Linked DNA regions of Homo sapiens: all the other regions are reported to be linked to region 1. The links are microRNA targets in miRTarBase. Many come from high-throughput screens and were not tested one by one. Region 1 holds a microRNA gene; each other region holds the end of a gene's coding sequence. Distances are from middle to middle.

Region 1 (3,111 bases):
GAGGCTGAGAGGGAATGATGCTGATGAAAGGTCTTAGTGAATAGCTATAGCTATACCAAATATTTATTTTGGGACTGGGTGTGTTGACTCACACTTGTAATCCCATAACTTTGGGAGACTGAGGCAGGAGGACTGCTTGAGGCCAGGAGTTCGAGGCTGCGGTGAGTTGTGATTGTGCCACTGCACTCCAGCCTGGGCAACAGAGCAAGACCCTGTCTCAAACATAATATAAATTTATTTCTAGAGCTAGCTCCATACAGAATTTCAAAGAACCTTGGGGCACTTGAGTACTGGCATCTATTTGTATACAAAACAGGATGAAACAGGATAAATCATTTCTTTCTCAATTTTTTAATTTTTTTTTTTTGCTGGGGGACAAAGAAGCTTGAACTTCTTATCTATCTACCTATCTATCTATCTATTATTTATTTATTTAGGGCTCACACCAAGCATTGGTTCCTCAGATACAAGTCAAAGATGAGGAAAATGGAGGCATTAAAATATTTGAAATCTGACTACAAAATGGCTGTGTTCTAAACGTCTTTGTTCCTTGAAAATTCATGTGTTGAAATCCTCCTCTTCAGAATGGAGGTCTTAGGAGGTGGTACCTTTGGGAGGTGATGAGGTCACGGGGGTGGAGCCTCATGAATGGGATTAGGGCCCTTATAAAAGGGTCTAGGGAGATTCCTCTCCCCTCCACTGTGAGAGGACATAGGGAGAAGCCCTGTCTATGAACCAGGAAGCCGGCTCTCACCAGATAGTGAATCTGCTGGTGTCCTGATCTTGGATCTCTGGGCTCTGGAACTGCAAGAAACAAATTCCTGTTGTTTAGATGCTTCCCAGTCTCTGGTATTTTGTTAGAGCAACTAGAACAGACTAAGACAGGTGCCAATCATAAAATATCAAATTTCTTCCCATGCTCAGAGTGCCACCAGCCATTTCTCCAATGGCTTGCATTTTCTACTCTTTCCAGAATTAGAGAGGGAGAGGAAGTCAGCTGAAGCCTGAGTCCTGTTAGGGCCACCTTGCTGTGTGAGTCACTGAAGTGTGGTTTTGCTGCTGTTGAGCATTGTTGGCTGGTTTCTGCAGATTTGGTAAGCCCCAGTCTCATTCAAAAGCCCCAAAAGTGAGACGCGTGTCTGGTCTCCTTGCTCCTGTTGGTCTGCTAGGCTTGTTCTACTAGGACACCTTTGGACACCTTCCCATGGGCGGTTCACAGAGGAAGATGCTGAGCTAGGGGTGTCAGGACGCCTCTAGTGAACTGGAAGTAGATCCCATTCCTTCCATTTCTCAAGATGCCTCCTCATCCCCAGTCCCCAAAGTGAATGACTGAAGTTTCTACTGCTCTGCAAAACCCAAGATAGGTCACCATTTTATTCCATTCTGATTCCCCCAGCAGACACAACCACCTGATTCCCCTTCGGAAATATTCTGCACCAAATGAAATCCGAGTGAGGTCATTAATTATGAAAATTCACAATGCGTAATTATAATAATTACTCTGATCACATAAACATTATACCACCATGAATAATTTAATAGGAATTGTGCTTTTGAAAAGCATGGCAATTAAAATAAAACCCAGGGAGGTGACAGAGACGATGCGGGAAATATATGCTCCAGTTTGTTCAGAGGAGGCTGTGCAGTCTCCAGAATGCTCACTCTTTGCCATAAAGAATCACTCTCGACCTTAGGAGGTTGGGAGACAAAGAAGGCAATGAGAGACCTGAGAGTTTACAAATGGGCTCCACTCCTGAGAAGTGGAGATCAAGAGTTCAAAGAGAGGCTGTTTTTCCCCTAAATAAAACAAGTTCAATCATCTTTATCTTTATCCCCCAGCAAAATAAAATAAAATAAAAAATCCTGATTGAAGAAGAAATGATTCATCCTGTCTGGACACCAATTCTCAAGTGCCCCGAGGTTCTTTGAAATTCTGTAAGGAGGTAGCTCTAGAAATAAATACAAGTTTTCTGGCCTCCCGATGGGTGGTGTGTACAACTAAGCAAAACAATCAGGGTGAAGGGATTACATTTTGCACTAAAAAGAAGAAATAAGACCAATTTACCCTGTGACTTTTATTAACCATGACAAAATCTTTTTTAAGTACCTTACTAAGTTTGTGAACAAGCAGCAATTTCTGCAATGAAACGGCCCCCTGAGATTAGGGAATTAAGTTATTTGGAATGGTTGGAAAGGAGAGTTTATACTGTGGAGAGGTGCAAAATGAGACCAGAGGGAGTTTGGACCCAGTTTTTAAAGAGGATCCTCTGTCCTCACTGACAGCAATCCAGGAGACACTACAGGTTCAGATTTGCACACTCCTTACCGTTCACAAAAAGCTGAACTATTATCTTGCTGTCCGGCTTTCAAATTTTTTGAAAATCAAGGTCTACTGTAAGAATCACATTTTACAACACAAGTTGGTGCTCGTGCTTGCATATACACACACACACATACACATACCTACACCAACACACAGAAAACACAGACCTACCATGTGAAATGTGCTCTATTAGGAATAGAATTTCTATGCTATTCTGTTTATGAAAGAAAACTGCTGACAGCAACAGTCTATCAAGTTAATTCCACTGTGTCATGATCCACAGTTCTTATTGTACACTTAACAGACACTTATGAAGTGCCTCATCTAGGTACTAGGGTACCTAGGTACTAAGTACACTTATGAAGTACCTCATCTAGGAATTTAGGTACCTAGGTACTAAGTACACTTAACAGACACTTATGAATACCTCATCTAGGAACTTAGGTACCTAGGTACTAAGTACACTTAACAGACACTTATGAATACCTCATCTAGGTACTAGGGTACCTAGGTACTAAGTACACTTAATAGATATTTACAAAGTACCTGCTGTGTGCCCAGCACTCATCTAGGTACCAGGGTTTCAGTACTGGCAACAGAGACAAAATCTATGCCCACGAGGAGCTTACATTCTACTGGAACAAGTTAGAAAAAACCATTGACAAACCCATTTCTTACAACTGCTGGGTGAGGAAGTTGGGCAGGGATTGTCAAAAACAGGTTCAGGTGGGGAAGTGTGGGCCTGTCTCCCTTGTACACAGCAGGAATCTCAGGGAGGCCGGCTTTGT
Region 2 (3,111 bases), not on the chromosome of region 1:
TACCAGATGAGACCATGTCTCTAAAATAAGAAAATAAAATAAAGGGTGTGGGATTTGTTTTTTCAGTAGGCAGGCGTTTCACGGAATATGGGACATCAGTGAGCAATCTAAGTTTCTAGGTTTTCTTTTTTAGGTTTTCTTAAAAAAAGATGTTCCCTCAAGTAACTCTTAATAGAACTAATAGTACTCTCAATTGTTTTTTTCTTACAGGGTCTATATTTACGTGCCTAACAGTAGCTCTGGGATTTTATCGCCTGTGGATCTAATAAAGTGTCTATTTAAAGTGATTTCTACTGTTTTGCCTTAAGAATACCAGATTGTTGGCTGGGTGCGGTGGCTCACACCTGTAATTCCAGCACTTTGGGAGGCTGAGGCAGGTGGATTACCTGAGGTCAGGAGTTCGAGACCAGCCTGGCCAACACGGTGAAACCCCGTCTCTACTAAAAAATTAAAACATTAGGCGGGCGTGGTGGCGGGCGCCTGTAGTCCCAGCTACTCGGGAGGCTAAGGTGTGAACCTGGGAGGCGGAGCTTGTAGTGAGCCGAGATCACGTCACTGCACTCCAGCCTGGGCAACAGAGCGAGACTCCGTCTCAAAAAAAAAAAAAAAACCGGAATACCAGATTGTTGTCCTTTTGTTTTCTTGTTACACATTTGAGCCCAGATTTTGACTTAATGTGTATTATTTATTTTTATGAAAATTGTGGACACATAACCAAGATAAAGAAGTCAGGTATTCCATAGCCATTCCTTATCTCCTTTCTGCTTAGTTGACTTTCTAGCTGAGTGGTGCACAGTGCATGGAAGATTCCACTTAGCCGGACCAGGAAGCTTGGTCTCATCTGTGGTGCACACCAACAGCAAACATTGATGTAATTCTCTACAACTTAATCTTTGGCACATAGAGGATTTGGGGGTCTCCATGTTCAGGGCACAATGGCTTTAATAAGTGCTGGAAAATCACTGAAGCTAAACCAAGAGCACCAGATCCTCTTTACCTAAATAACCAGTCTTTAACATGAGCTAGTCCCTGTACCATAGTATTGTTTCAGCTGTAGTTGGTTGTCATGTTAATAAGACAGCTGCACGTCTACCTTCTTTTCTTTTGATTTCCATTGTCTTGGTAAGTTATTGTTAGGGTTATTTTTAATGTGCCTTCCAGCCAGAAAAATCAGCTGTCTAAAGAAGCATTGCAATTGTAATGGGGACTCTTACCTCTTAGAATGCAAGATTTTCCCTCCTCCCTCCCTCTTCTCCATCTCTTTCCCTCATGATTTGAGAACTGTAATAATCCTCCACTGGTGGCATTACCTACCTAGAAAACCTGCTGATTCTTAGCATGGAACTTTGCTTCAGTTTGCAGGACAAAGTCTGCTTCCTTCCGGTCTTCATTTACTTTTTATACAAGGGATGCAGTCAGCTCTCCATGTATAAGATACCTAGATGATGGATACATATTTCATAAATGAAATTTATGTCATTAATGAATATCCCCTTGCCCACAACCAGCTCAGGCTTTCAAAATTCGAGAATGGTCATGCCACACAGCATTCTAATCTAGATGGATTAATTCTGTTGTTCAAAACATTCTCATACCTGCCTTTATATTGAAAACAAATTCTAGATACAACTGGGGTTATTCTGGAAAAGCACATTCTCACCTTTTTTTTTTTTTTGAGACGGAGTCTCGCACTGTCGCAGGGCTGGAGTGCATTGTCGTGATCTCTGCTCACTGCAACCTCTGCCTCCTGGGTTCAAGCGATTCTCCTGCCTCAGTCTCCTGAGTAGCTGGGATTACAGGTGCCCACCACCACGCCCAGCTAATTTTTGTATTTTTAGTAGAGATGAGGTTTCACCATGTTGGCCAGGCTGGTCTCTAACTCCTGACCTCGTGATTCACCCGCCTTGGTCTCCCAAAGTAGTGGGATTACAGGCGTGAGCCGCTGCGCCTGGCCCATTCTCATCTTATTCAAATTACTGGCACATGGGCAAGAGAGACAATGACATGGATAGAAGCTTTTCTGCCTTTCTCTGCACACACATACAGTGAAGGAACCACAGGCAGATTTTTTGATCAGTTTGGTGAATACATTGCTCGTTGTCACTGTTCCAACCACATTGGTAAAAAAAATAGTTACCTTTTGTCCTTTGGATGTCATGTCTAAACTTTGGAAAATATAAGTCATTGCCCTTTTAGAGAATGTTTGTGTAGTCCAAAGATTGTGAGCTCCATATAGTATGAAAATCAAGTACTTTTGCATGAGCAATAGCAGTTTCAAAGTGAAATATTATAATTTAATCTTTTTCAAGTAGATCAAAAATTCTTAACTGATTAATAAAATATTTTATCAATATATCATCCCCCTTTCAGAGAGAAGTCCCCAGAAGAGACAGCACACTTAGCAATTGCCCTCATTATTAAAGGCCTAGGTGAGTGGCATAAAGGGCCATATGCGATTATGTTTCAAGGTAAACATTACCTAACCTTGTGTGGGTTAAAAACAGTGAAGTGTCCTTGTATCCTGATAAAATTTTTTTTTAAATAACATGGTGGGTTGACATTTTTGCATCTGCTATAAGTTTTCTCACATGTCGTTCTTCCTGGTGAGAGCGGGCTGCATCATTCTGGCACTTAATTTGGGTGTTCGATTTTGCTATAGAGTTCTTTGCAGTACAGCATAGCCTCTTCTTGGCCTTGGGAACAGTGAACTCTTCTTTTGATGGTGTGGATTGCATGCATATCTGGAGAGAGGAGGGCTCAGGACTGTGTTCACTTTATTTGGTCAGATGTATTTTATTTGAAAACCATTTGAGCCCAAAATACAAGTGTACCCTTCCCACTTCTGGCTCAAGCACCCGTGAGCCGACTAGACGTAATATTAAAACTTACTGATGCTGGGTGCGGTGGCTCATGCCTATAATCCCAGCACTTTGGGAGGCCAAGGCAGGCAGATCACCTGAGGTCAGGAGTTGGAGACCAGACTGGCCAACATGACGAAATGCTCTCGCTACTAAAAATAGAAAAATTAGCCAGGCGTGGTGGCACACCCCTGTAATCCTAGCTACTCGGGAGGCTGAGACAGGAAAATTGCATGAACCTGGGAGGCAGAGG
Region 3 (3,111 bases), not on the chromosome of region 1:
AAAGCACTGCATATAGAATATAAAATATGTGTTATGTGTTTATATTCTATTTGGTATGCATGCTAAAAACTATTTATTGATGGAGTATATGGCTAAAAAGTTTGGAGACCCATGTATACTAAACACCTATGTCTTTTAAAACATTTGCCTCGGCTGACAAAGGTTTCAACTGGAGAGTCTTCCTAGCAGATTTTTATACTTCAAACCCAAATCCCCAAACATGAGAAGTCCCTATTTTTCTTTTTAAATATACACATATATTTTATTTTAAAAAGCACAAGAACATTATACAAGTTTTAAATTTACATTTTTGCAATAAAAGTTATCAATATATGCATTATTTGTATAACTTCATCATGGATGGAATTTGAATCAGTGGTATAAACATGTTGCAGTCACTAAATATAGATCATCATCACAGTGAACCAAAATGCATAGTTGTTATGAAATGACAAATGACCACTAAAAGGTGAACTCACAGCCCATACACCAATATAATAAATTAATTATACAGATATATTTTTCTTCACCATATCATTAAAATTCTCACTAGCCCCTTACCAAACATTAGAAAAACACAGTTCTGGAGCCATCCTGTTGAACCAGTGCCTTCACATACTACACTAAAGAAAATAAAGTGACTCAGTTGCTTGTTTGTAAGTAAACTTCATAAGCATAATTGTTTGCAATGATTAAGGTAAATCACTAGGACATTTGAACATAATGAGAAATCCCTGGGGCTTGGGGCAGCACTGAGACATACGCTCATCTACAGTGCAAAAATCTGAATCAATCTCAATCAGTGGAACGCAATATGAAATGGGTTCTTTGGCAGTAAAGGTCTGGCTGGCCATTGCCAGACAGTCCCTCTGTCCTCTTGAGAGCCTAACTCCAGAATTTATTAAGTTAATATAAAAAGGACTAAAAATAAAGTCAGTTTATCTTTGCTAAATTGGGGCCCATCTATTAGGGTAGAAGTCAGTATCTTCTGTTTCCTATTCTAGCCCAGATTTCCCAGTCAAACAATCCACTCAATACAATTATATAAGAAACAAACACACATGTTCAAATACTTTCATCATTCTGGCAAATCTGACAAACTGAATACTGAATTTCCTGATCCTTACCTGTTATTGTTACAAATTGTTCACTAGACATGTATCTATTTATCCAGATACCTTCTGAATTGTAATTATTCAAGTAGAAAATCATGATTGTGATTCTGACGCCTGCTCATGCCAATCCCTTACTGCAAAATCCACTTTTCTTTACATAAAAGTACCAAAAAAATCTAGCCCCAAATGTGCATCACTAATCACTTAGCAAATATATTTTACTTGCTTGCCTTTGCTGAGCAAAAAGAAGGTAGGAAAACATTTACACACATATGTGAGACACTAATAGCCAAGGGCAAAATAAGATACAGTCTTTGAATGCATCTTTCAAGGTTCTAACATTACCCCAGAAACAACGTAAGTTAAAATGGAAGGTTTCCATTTATCTTCTGCTGTTTTATATCACAATCTCTTGATACAAAAAACAAAAGCCAGGAACCAAGAAGTCTATGCACAAATTCAGGAGAGCTCTATTATTTATAAACAAGATGGCTCAACCACAGCATGTTATAACAGGACACAGACTATTGATCACATGGCTTTTTTGGTGGTTTGTACTAGTCATAAAACCAGAGTTTATGAAAAGGTTGCACACAGACAACATCAAGGATTTGTCTTTTACAAAGATATAGAAGACTGCGGAATTGGTTTAAATCTGATTGTTCTAATTTACAGTTGTCATGATCCACTCATTGCGAGAATTTTCTCATCTTCATTCTACAGTTTTTACATCAGAATTACAAGAGGTTTCTGAGAGTCAAACAGGATGGTGCCACAATCTCCTTGCAGAATGAGATTTGCCTTTGGAAAATGTCAAGTATTATTTCAAAACTCAACAAAGCTACTGGTAGTCAGAGGTGAGAACTGCAAGCTCTTTGTACCGTCAGGAATGAATAACAAATACATTACCCTAACTTTTCTTGAGGCCTACAGTGAGAAAAAAGCTTTTCCATATTGGCAGAAATCATCCTCTGTCCACATAGAGATTGAGTTTAATTTGTGGTGATAGCAGCAGGTGGCACATTAGGGGTATTTCCTTAAAAGAGAAATAATAAAAAATTTATTTTTGGAATCTTTCCCAAGTATATTGCATGGTTTCTGCAATTCTTCTTTAACTGCAAGGAAGACTATCACAGATTATTAGAATTTTGTCAGTGATCCAATGTCAGTTGAACTAAACTTGGGGGGAAAACACCAAATACAAAATTGCAGAAGAGTTAACCAACATATAAAATGTCTACAACTGTTTGACGTGACTTCATCTACCAAGTGGATGAAATAAAATGAAATGAGACAAATTATGAAGGGGAATAAATTCCTGGAAATACTAGCACATAAAACAGATTGATCTATGTCCTTTTTTCCTGTGAAGCATATGTTTGCTAATTGAAAGCAATACTCCATTAAGAAATATTTTATTGATGTAAGTGAACCTGGACATGGAGCAAAAGACCCTCCAATACTTTCCCAGCCCTCAGAAAGTTTTCCATAATTTTGAATCAGCCTTTACTACTGTCGTCATTTGTGATTGTCTTGAGGCAGAGTTGGAGCTCACAGTAACTGCCAGTTGAATCCAAATAACATCTGATTAGTCTCTTGGCTCCTAGCAATCTCTTCTATAATGCAGTGTTGTTGCCAGACCAAATGGAGCTTCCGATACCGCTCACGAGATAAATGAAGGGGGTTGCCCCTCCTTTAGGGAAAAAAGAAAAAACAACATGTAAGTTTGAATCTAGTAACTGCCACATCTTTATTGTCTAAATTAGTATGCACTCTTGAGATGTTCCTGGAGCCGGGAGGACTCACCAGCACAGGGCTTAAAAAGGGATATTTTCCCTTCACCATTGATCACTAAGAACTTGACAGGCTACTTAGCTAATAAAGCAGAAATGTACTCCTTGACCATTCATAAAATAGGTCAGGTATATTATGGCATTATGGGACCTCACTTAAATGGTCACTGAGGTTTATAACTTGAAGCAGCACTATTCTTTTT
Region 4 (3,062 bases), 71 Mb from region 1:
CTTGTTAGCATCCCCAGCCTCTGCCCTGAACCAAACCTAATTGTCCTGGTCTTAAGTTCTGCAACCCACCCACTCCCCCAGCAAACATAACTCCTAGTATGCTTTACTCACAGGCAAGGGAAAGGATGGGGTTTGAACCCCTTTGGCCTGAATATTTGTAACTTCCCAACTGGTGCGGGTCATTACATTTGGTGTGTGTCCCATTGAATCAACCCTGTTGTTTCCTTCTGTCATGCTTTCCACTTCTTCCTGGATCATCTCTCCCCATCACTTGCCTTGGTAGTCACTGCCCTGGATCTCTTTACCCAGCAGTGATGGCCTGGCTTTTCTTTTGGGCAATCCACCCCTATCCCTATCCTGCAGGCTGTGTGGATGGTCACCTGGGTGGCAGTAGTGACCCTGAGTGTGGATTTGGGCCTGGCTGTGGGTGTGGTCTTCTCCATGATGACTGTGGTCTGCCGCACCCGGAGGTGGGCATAGAGATGAGTGGAGTTGAGGTCGGGGCAGGGGAAGAGAATGAGGTGCTTGGGGTGACTCTCCAGCCAGGCCAGGCTAAGCTGGAAATCTGGCCCCACCTTCTTCCCTAGGGTGTAGTGCCTGGCACTTGGACAGGCTGAGGGGACAGAGCTCTACAGACCACTCAGAGGAAGCCCCAGGGTGGGTGGGCTGCAGCCAAAGAAGGAAGGGAAGATTAGCCCCAGACATTTCTCTGATCCTTTGACCTCTTAGCTCCTCCAGGTCCCGGGGCTCTGCATCCTGAGCTATCCAACACCACTGTACTTTGGGACCCGTGGGCAGTTTCGCTGCAACCTGGAGTGGCACCTGGGGCTCGGAGAAGGAGAAAAGGTGAAGGAGCTTGGTTTAGGAGGGATGTGGATCCTCAGGGAGTGGGAGGCAGGTGGGTGTTCTGAGGGGGATCCTTGTGCTCAAGGGGTGCATGTTCATGCTGTGTTTCGGGAGTGGTGACTGCCCTTCTTTACTTATAGGAGACTTCAAAGCCAGATGGCCCAATGGTTGCAGGTGAGATGGGGTGACAAGAAGGAAGATTTGGGCATGTTGCATGGTGACACCTGGGTACTCCTGTCTTCTCCCATTCTAGTTGCTGAGCCTGTCAGGGTGGTGGTCCTAGACTTCAGTGGTGTCACCTTTGCAGATGCTGCTGGGGCCAGAGAAGTGGTGCAGGTGAGGGAGAGGGTAGGTTGAGGAGAAACCCCTTAGCATCTCACTCATACCCTCTGATCTGGGACTTAACCCCTTTGCCCCATCCCTGCAGCTGGCCAGCCGATGTCGAGATGCTAGGATCCGCCTCCTCCTGGCTCAGTGTAATGGTGAGATGTGTGGAGAAGAGCGGGGCCCAGTGCCTGGGCAATGACTGGACACCTGCGGTAGGGAAAAGGACCCGGTGTGGACTTAGGGTCTCAGAGTCTGACACCCTCCCCACATAGCCTTGGTGCAGGGGACACTGACCCGGGTAGGACTCCTGGACAGGGTGACTCCAGATCAGCTGTTTGTGAGTGTGCAGGATGCAGCTGCTTATGCCCTGGGGAGCCTGTTAAGGGGCAGTAGCACCAGGAGCGGGAGCCAGGAGGCACTGGGCTGCGGCAAGTGAGGCAGGGGTAAGTGGCTGGAGACCCAGGGAGAGGGGTTTGGGAAAGGGTCTGAGGAAGATCAAGAAGAAAAGGGTGGGGACGGAATGAATAGTAGATTGAAGACCAAATCAGGGAGCCCGGGCTGAGCTATGGGTGAGGAACTGAAGAACTCAGATCCCTAAGTAGGTGGGGTACCCCTGAGAGGACTGCCACATTTCATTAAGGAAGAGGGGTGCCTAATCTATTCCTGACATGTCTCCTCTCTTCTCCAGGAGCTCACTGACCCAAAGATTTGCACCGTGTGGGTCTGACCTCATCATGTGGAGTGCAGAGGGCCCTGATGACATGTGTGTGATGAGGACCATGACCCTTGAACCCCCTTACCTAACGTAACTAATAAAATGAAGCTGAGAGCTTTGGAATCCATGAAGTGAGTCTAGGTGTTTGCACAGGGACTCTGGTGCCCCTTCTTTTGTGCCCACAGCATTGCAGAGACACAACTAAGAATGGCTTTCACCAACCACCAGCCCTCACCCCAGCCCCAGAGCCACAAGTTCTCTCTGTGGGGGTGGGGCTGGAGCAGGTACACAGAGTACTGGATCTGAAGATGCAGATGAGGGGCACAGTCTTGGGATTATGTGTTGGGGAACTTCCCCACCCCCTCGGTCCCAAGATGAGAGGACAGTGTTTCCACCTTAGGTTCTTAGAGTCCCTCTGGGCTCTTTGGCACTTGGAAAGTGATCCCCCCATTTCCTGCCCCATGAGAATGGGCAGGGGGAGGACTTGGCACTGGCTGTGGGAGAGGTTATGGCTCCACCAGGCCTCTGGGCACTGGAAAAAGGAGGGGTGTCACCAGGACAACCCCTACTGGGCATCAGGTTCTGAAAAGGAAGAGTGAGGAACTAGAGGCTCAGGGACAGCCAGTAGAGTGCTCACAGGGTGGTGGGGTTTGTTGGAAATTCCTGGCAGGGACAAGGAGGCAGGCCCAGCCTGACAGTCAGAAATCCCCAGCGGGCCATCACTGGGAGGTCATGCACTGCAGCCGGTGTTTGAAGAAGAGCAGCCGGTGTTTGGCCATCTGGCTCTCGTCCAGTGATCCTGGGTAACGGTACCGGGCGTAAGTCTCTGCTCCGGCATCCCTTGATGTCCAAGGCAGCTTCAGTTTGGATGCATGATCCACCACGACGTCGGAGCAGGAGCCAACCCGAAGGGAACCAAGCCCATCCAAGAAGAATTCTGGGGGTGGAGGGGAGTACACAGTGAGGGATCCTGAGGGTGCAGAAGGCCGACTGGTAAGGGAGAACTCTCAAATTTAGGGTGTGGAAAGTGTGTGTGCAAAGGCTTGTTTCTAAGGACCCTGAGCATGTAAATCAACTCCCTGGGTCTCAGTCTTACTCTTGTGTAAATGGAGTCAATATACTTGTGCTTTGAAAATCGAAAAACCTACCCCTACTCCCAGAGGTTAAATAAACG
Region 5 (3,111 bases), not on the chromosome of region 1:
GGGGAGGCAGCGAGGGCTGGGTCCCCACGGTGGCCCTGGCAGCCCCGCCATCCCCATCCCCTGCCACGTGCTGCTCCCTCCATCTGGTCCCTGCCCCTCAGCCAGCGGAGGAGCCCGCTGGGCCCTTCCCTGCCCGTCCCCGCTCCTCCCTGGCCCCCGCACAGGTAAGTGAGGGTGAGGGGGGCACAGGGGACTGGGGTCACTAACCCCCCCCGGGCCCCCCCCGAGCCCCTGAGGTGGGGAGGCTGGGAGGCGGGTGGGGAGCCAGCAGGCACTGTGCTGAGGAAATCCTGTGGGCACCCGAATGGGGGGGCCTCCCCGCTCGTGGGGCCCTCCCCTGCCCTCCCGCCCGCCCGCCTCATCACCTTCTCCTCTTGTCTCCATAGCTTCCGCCCTGCGCTGCCAGTCTCCTACCTGCAGGCCGAGCTGGCCTTCGAGGGCGAGGCCGCCTGCCGGGCCTTCCTAGAGCCCCTGGGCCTGGCCTACACGGGCCCGGACAACTCCAGCATCGACTGCCGCCTCAGCCTGGCGCAGCTGTCAGCCTTCTGAGCACCCAGCGAGGAGGGGCGGGGGCAGGGGCTGCAGCCCCCAGCGCTGCCTTTGCGGATTCTGTTTTTGAGCCGTGGACTTGGGTTGTAAATTTATTTGTGGGGAGTGCGCTCCAGGAAGAGCCACCATCCCTGCCCCCGTTTTCCCACCGGGGAGTCTGTACAGAGATTTTTCTACGTTTTTATTTTTTGCCTCAGAGGGATGGGATTGGGGAGGAGGGGATGGGCAGCGGAGGGTTGGGGGCATGGTCTGCAGGCTCATCTGTGTCCGCCTTTCACTCCACTAATGCTGTCTCAGTGTTTTCTCTCTCTCTCTTTCGAGCTTGCACTCCGGTACCCGACCCGGCGCCCTGGCCCATCCCATGCCGGGGGGCCAGTGGAAAGAAGACAGGCCGTCCAGCCCGTGCCCGCCTGCGGCGGGGGCACCCAGCAAGCCCGCCCACCGCCCGCTGCCTCACCTGCTTCGCCACAGACTCTTGTTCCCAGCCCCTTGGGGCCTCCGTGTTTGGGGTGGGGGAGCTGCTTAGAGACTGTGCCCGTCCTCGGCCCCCCACCCTGAAGTGCCAGCACCACCAGCACCAGATCCTCCGCCGCCACACCGCACTGAGGACACGCCGGCCGGGCCGCCTCGTCTCAAGTTGTATAAAGTTGTCTCCGTGTCCCCTCCTCCCTCTGCCCCCAGTGTTTCTTCTGATTTTTTTTTCCCCTTTCCCTCCCTCCCTCTCCGCATTCTTCCCTTGGTTCAGCACAGGTAAAACGGTTCCCCTCCCTCCCTGCCTTCATGGATCACCAGCTCACGTCATGTTGCCTTCTCTTTTCTTTGTGTGTGTGTTTATTTAAGTTATTTTTCTTCCTCCTCTCCCTTTTCTTTTTGGCCCTCCCTCCCTCCCTCTTCTGCCATGTAACTGGAGGATGTGCTATGAGTTTGCAAACAGCTGGACTGTCAGGCTGCTTTTTTTCCAGATGTTCCTCCTCTGCCTCCCCTTCCCCTCCTCTCCCCTCCTTTTCCTTCCTTCCTTCCTTTCCTTGGAGCACTGAGCACCATTTGGAAGCTTGAGAGAAACCAAAATTAAAGAGAGAAAGAGAGAGCGTGCACGCTCCTGCTTTGTCTTTCCTGTGTGGGCTGTTTGCATCCATTGTCTCCTCCAGAGGTCTGGGGGTGTCACTCCAGGGGGATCTCAGCCAGGGGCTGGAAAGGCCCCCCTGTCCTCCCTATACGGCACAGCCAGAGTGTCTGCAGGGGCTGGCACCCCACTTCCTGGCTGAGGGTGAACTCCAGCTTGGGGAGGTGGACCTGGGAACCATGGGGCACCTTGGCCACGGTGAGGTGGGGGTGCAGCTGCCCTGGAGACTGTAGTGTACTCAGCCCCTCGGCTTCCAGCCTCTGGCTCAGCACTTGTGCCATGCTTTCCAGTGTGGGAGAGGGTGGGGCACACAGCACATGCGGGCCCAGGAGGACCAGCTTTCTAAAGCTCAGCCGAGGGGGTGCATTTAGCCCCGGGGCCAAGAGGGCCCGTCTCAGAGCTCCAATGGCAGCGGCCTCCTCCCCAGCGCCTGCCAGTCGCAGCAGGGCCAGGGTCAGGTGTAGGTTCTGAGAGGGCACTAGGAAGTTGGCGCAGTGTGGGGCCACGTGGACCAGGTATTCCTGGGCCTTGGTCACTTCTGCTTGTAGCCCAGGCTCGGTCACCATGAGGGCCACAAAATGTGTGGGGCGCGGTTGGCAAGGGGCTGCAACACTAAGGCGGGCCCTTTTGTCCTCGGGCCAGGCCGCAGGACCCCACTCGGCTTCTGTCGTCTCAGCGGAGCCCCCCGGGACTCCCAGGGCCTGTGCTTCCTTGCCCCCCAGCAATGTGGTCCTGGTGGCTGCTGTTGGCTTCAGTGCCTCAGTCACTCCGGCGAGGCGTCCTCTTGGGGCCAGTGTTCCCAAATCAGCAGCTGTGCCCAGCGCCCTCTCCTGGGCCGCCTCCAGCTCTCCGGGTTCCTCCACGCCTGGTTCCTGGTGCCCTGTGCAGAGCGGCCTTGTGCTCCCTCGCTTGGGGGCAGCCTGGGCCTCCTGACCTGTCCCCGCCAGTGTCCACTCGGCACCCTCTGCCCCGTGGGCGCCCTCGGTGTTCGGTGCGTCCAGGATGGTGGGCCCGCGTCCCGCCGCCGAGCCAGAGCCAAAGACGAGGTCGGTGCGCGAGGCGCGGTCCCACACAAGGCGGCCACGGAAGCGGAAGAAGCGCACGCGGTGCTGGGGCACTGCCAGCACGCCCGGCCCGAGCGCCGCCAGCGGCTGGTCCCAGCAAAAGGCGCTGAAGGGCTCCTCGCGCACACCCAGAAAGCGGTCGACGTAGCCCACCGAGAAGTCGGCGGGGTCGAGGCGCGGGTCCCAGCGGATGCGCTGGATGACGTCCGCGGCTGTGCGCAGCGGCGGCTTCTTGGCCCCGGCCTCCGGCTGCGCCTCGCGGCCAGGCGGCGCCGGCGCCCCAGGGTGGGGCTGGCGGCAGCGGGCGCCGAAGCGGCAGCGGCCTTCCAGGAAGAAGCGGCAGGCCGGCGGGGGCGCGGGTTCCGTGGCGGGGGC
Region 6 (3,111 bases), not on the chromosome of region 1:
GAAGCCGTATGAGTGCAGTGAATGTGGAAAGGCCTTCAGTCGCAGCTCGTCCCTCACTCAGCATCAAAGGATGCATACTGGGAGAAATCCTATCAGTGTAACAGATGTGGGAAGACCTTTTACAAGTGGGCAGACCTCAGTCAACATCCAAGAACTTTTATTGGGGAAAAACTTTTTGAATGTCACCACTGAGGAAAATCTTTTGCAAGAGGAAGCATCTTACATGGCATCTGATCGTACATACCAAAGAGAAACCCCACAAGTGTCTTCACTGTGAGAAAACCTTCTGTTGCCAAATGTCATTTGTCACCTAAGGAGTCATATTAGAAAATCACGCAGCTTAGAGCCTTATTCTCCATCCGAATTCATCCTGGAAAAACACCCAGTGGTTATTACGCACTTGGGAAAACCTTTAGCTCCATCTTTCTCATTAGTTTACAGTGCAATGTTATCTCAGGAATTTTTATAAACAGAAAGAGGTGACATAGAAAAGAAAATGAAATGCAGACACTGCTTTTATACTGTTGTCTTGTATGTACATTTCTGTCCTGTGTCAGGAAAGTTAGTAAGGGAAGGTCTGGAAACTTACTCAATGTCTTTGTTCTACAACATTGTCTCTTCTTAAGAAGCATTGTTTTTATGAGAAATAATGAAGCCTTGAGTTATGAAATACTTTTATATTTAAGGATTAAAAGAAACATGAATGCGCACATTTTATTGTACCACTTAATACTGTTTAGGTCTTTGATTTTTTAAAAAAATTCTTTTTTAATGGGTTTTAAACACTAACACTGAGAATTTTTCTTGATTCCCATCTGTTGGTTTACTTGATTGCTATAGCTGTATGGTAAATCTCAAAATTAGGTAATGTGATTTCTTTTTTCTTACTATTTTTATTTAAAATTCATTTAGCATTCCTAGTTTGACTTTCCATATACACTTTAGGATTGGTTTTTCTGTTTTTCAAATATTCTTGCTTGGATTTTGATAGAAATTGAGTTAAATCTATAGATCAATGTGTTGGAAATTGGCATCTTAGTCTTCCAATTCATGAACATAGCCTATCTTTTCATTATTTAAATTTTCTTTGATATATTTCATTACTGTTTTATAGTTTACACAGTATAACTCCTGCACATTTAAAATAAGAATTATAGCTGCATAGTTTTTTGAGTGATTGTAAATGGCATTGATATTTAAAGTTTCAATATTCACATGATGTTGGCTAGTATACAGAAACATTATTTTTTCAATCTTATTTTGCTGTCTTGCAACCTTCCTAAACTCATTATTTCTTGCCATTTCTTTTGGGAGAATCCTTAGGATTTTAAATATAGAAATGTCATTTGCAATTTGGGACAGTTTTATTTCTTGCTTCCCATCTGTATACCTTTTATTTGCTTTTCTCATGTTATTGTACTAGGTAGGATTTCCAGTGTGATGTTGAATACGAATAGTGACAAGTTATCCATGCCTTGTTCCTGATATTAGGGGGAAATGTTCAGTTTCTCATTATTATGATGTTGAAAGTTGCTTCCAAAGAGTTTCTCTATCGAGTTTAGAAAGTTTCCCTCTATTCCTAATTTGCTGGGATTTTTTTGGTTATTATTAATAAGTGTTGAATTTTGTCATATGCTTTTTCTCCACCAATTGATTTAATTATGTGATGTTACTTCTATAGTCAGTTGATATGATGTGTTACCTTGATTGAGTTTCAAGTATTGAACCAGCCTCACATCTTTGTGATAAGCCCTACTTGATCATGGAGTATAATTTTGTTTGTGTACTATGCTACAGTATTTCATTTGCTAGTATTTTGTTGAGGAAGCTTTCCTCTGATTTCATGAGTGATAATCTGTAGTTTTCTTTCTTCAACTGTTACTGTTTGGTTTTGATGTCTAGATGATAACTAACCTCCTAACATGAATTGGAAGGAATTCTCTTCTGTTTTTTTGGAAGATCATGTGTAGAATTGGTGTTATTTGTTCCTTTAATGTTTGGTAGCTTTCTCCAGTGAAGAAGTGGGACCTGGAGATTTTCCTTTTGAATGCTTTTTAATTATGTATTTATTTTATTTAATAGGTATAGAACTATTCAGAGTATTTCATATTGGATGAATTTTTATAGATTTTCTTAAGGAAGTGTTCATTTTATGTAAATGTTCTAATTTGTAGCATTCTTTGAAATATTTCCTTTTATCCTCTTGATGGCAGCAGGATCTGTACTTATGTTCCTTGTTGTATTCTTGATATTGGAAATGTATCACTTATTATTGTCAGTCTTTGTAGACATATGTCAATTTCATTGATCATTTCAAAGAAATAGCACTTTATATCACTGATTTTTCTCCAGTCTCTGTTCTTAATTTCACTGATATCTGCTCTGATGTGTATTGTATCCTTTCTCCTACTTGCTCTGGTTGTATTTGACTCAGTGGTTTCCTGACGTGGATGTTTAGGTTATTGATTTGAGGCTTTTTTTCTTTTTTAATATAAGCTTTAAGTTCTATACATTTTTCTTACACTGCTGTTAGTTTCATCCCACAAGTCTTAATATGCTTTTGATTATCTTACTCAGTTCTAAGATTGCCTGATTCCTTTTGAGACATCTTCTCTAACCCAGGAATTATTTAGAAGTATATTGTTTAATAGTGTTTGGAGTATTCCCTGCTATTTGTTATTGATTTCTAATTTGTTTTGCATTTGATGTTACTGTTGAAATTTGTTGACTTTTTTTCCTTATGACCCAGGATATAGGCTGTCTTGTTTTACATAGCTGCTTGAAAAGAATGTGTGTTCTCGGTCATTTGGTGGAGTTTCTGTAAAAGTTTGTATGATCCTGTTAGTTGGTGGTGTTATTTAGGTCTCCTGTATCCTTGCTGATTTTCTGTCTAGTATTTCTATCAATTGCCAAGAGAAGGATGTTGAAGTCCTGAGCTATAATTGTGGAATTACCTATTCCTCCTTTAAGTTCTATCAGTTTTTGCTCCACATAATTTAAAGCTCTGTTGTTTGGTATATACACATGTAGGTTTGCTTAGTATTCTTGGTGTATTGACCCTTTTATAATTAAGTAATGTCCCTTTTTGTTCCTGTTAATACTCTTATCAAT

Evidence for each region. Region 1 holds the annotated microRNA hsa-miR-3612 (AGGAGGCAUCUUGAGAAAUGGA, at 1,283-1,304, opposite strand). A microRNA usually pairs through its seed, bases 2 to 8, with sites in the 3' UTR of a target mRNA and lowers its output. Matches are read on the target gene's strand: a 7mer-m8 pairs with bases 2 to 8, a 7mer-A1 pairs with bases 2 to 7 and ends in A, and an 8mer does both.
Region 2: the mRNA of MCUR1 is a reported target of hsa-miR-3612. Seed matches in the 3' UTR shown: 7mer-m8 at 1,742-1,748.
Region 3: miRTarBase lists UBR1 as a target of hsa-miR-3612. The part of its 3' UTR that is shown has no 7-base or 8-base seed match.
Region 4: the mRNA of B4GALNT1 is a reported target of hsa-miR-3612. Seed matches in the 3' UTR shown: 7mer-m8 at 2,565-2,571, 7mer-m8 at 1,585-1,591 and 7mer-m8 at 891-897.
Region 5: the mRNA of LENG8 is a reported target of hsa-miR-3612. Seed matches in the 3' UTR shown: 7mer-m8 at 1,524-1,530.
Region 6: miRTarBase lists ZNF805 as a target of hsa-miR-3612. The part of its 3' UTR that is shown has no 7-base or 8-base seed match.

What each region holds. Positions count from the first base shown.
Region 1 is chr12:128,292,298-128,295,408 of GRCh38, reverse strand. It overlaps MIR3612 (microRNA 3612), which reads right to left and starts at 1,317; the gene lies at 1,231-1,317. The region is part of intron 1 of TMEM132C (transmembrane protein 132C); the gene reads right to left.
Region 2 is chr6:13,787,964-13,791,074 of GRCh38, reverse strand. It overlaps MCUR1 (mitochondrial calcium uniporter regulator 1), which reads left to right. Exons shown (of 9, transcript NM_001031713.4): 9 at 211-3,111. The coding sequence ends at 266. Among named protein-coding and RNA genes, the nearest start is that of MCUR1, 25 kb to the left of the region's middle. RefSeq lists a silencer at 1,754-1,922 and an enhancer at 2,591-3,111.
Region 3 is chr15:42,942,663-42,945,773 of GRCh38, forward strand. UBR1 (ubiquitin protein ligase E3 component n-recognin 1) reads right to left here. Exons shown (of 47, transcript NM_174916.3): 47 at 235-2,808. The coding sequence ends at 2,667. Among named protein-coding and RNA genes, the nearest start is that of TTBK2, 23 kb to the left of the region's middle.
Region 4 is chr12:57,624,137-57,627,198 of GRCh38, forward strand. B4GALNT1 (beta-1,4-N-acetyl-galactosaminyltransferase 1) reads right to left here. Exons shown (of 11, transcript NM_001478.5): 11 at 1-2,825. The coding sequence ends at 2,608. It also overlaps the pseudogene SLC26A10P. Among named protein-coding and RNA genes, the nearest start is that of B4GALNT1, 7.5 kb to the right of the region's middle.
Region 5 is chr19:54,460,380-54,463,490 of GRCh38, forward strand. LENG8 (leukocyte receptor cluster member 8) reads left to right here. Exons shown (of 16, transcript NM_052925.4): 16 at 387-1,637. The coding sequence ends at 549. It overlaps LENG9 (leukocyte receptor cluster member 9), which reads right to left. Exons shown (of 1, transcript NM_001301782.2): 1 at 1,353-3,111. The coding sequence ends at 1,711. Among named protein-coding and RNA genes, the nearest start is that of LENG9, 1.8 kb to the right of the region's middle.
Region 6 is chr19:57,254,427-57,257,537 of GRCh38, forward strand. It overlaps ZNF805 (zinc finger protein 805), which reads left to right. Exons shown (of 4, transcript NM_001023563.4): 4 at 1-3,111. The coding sequence ends at 277. Among named protein-coding and RNA genes, the nearest start is that of ZNF805, 15 kb to the left of the region's middle.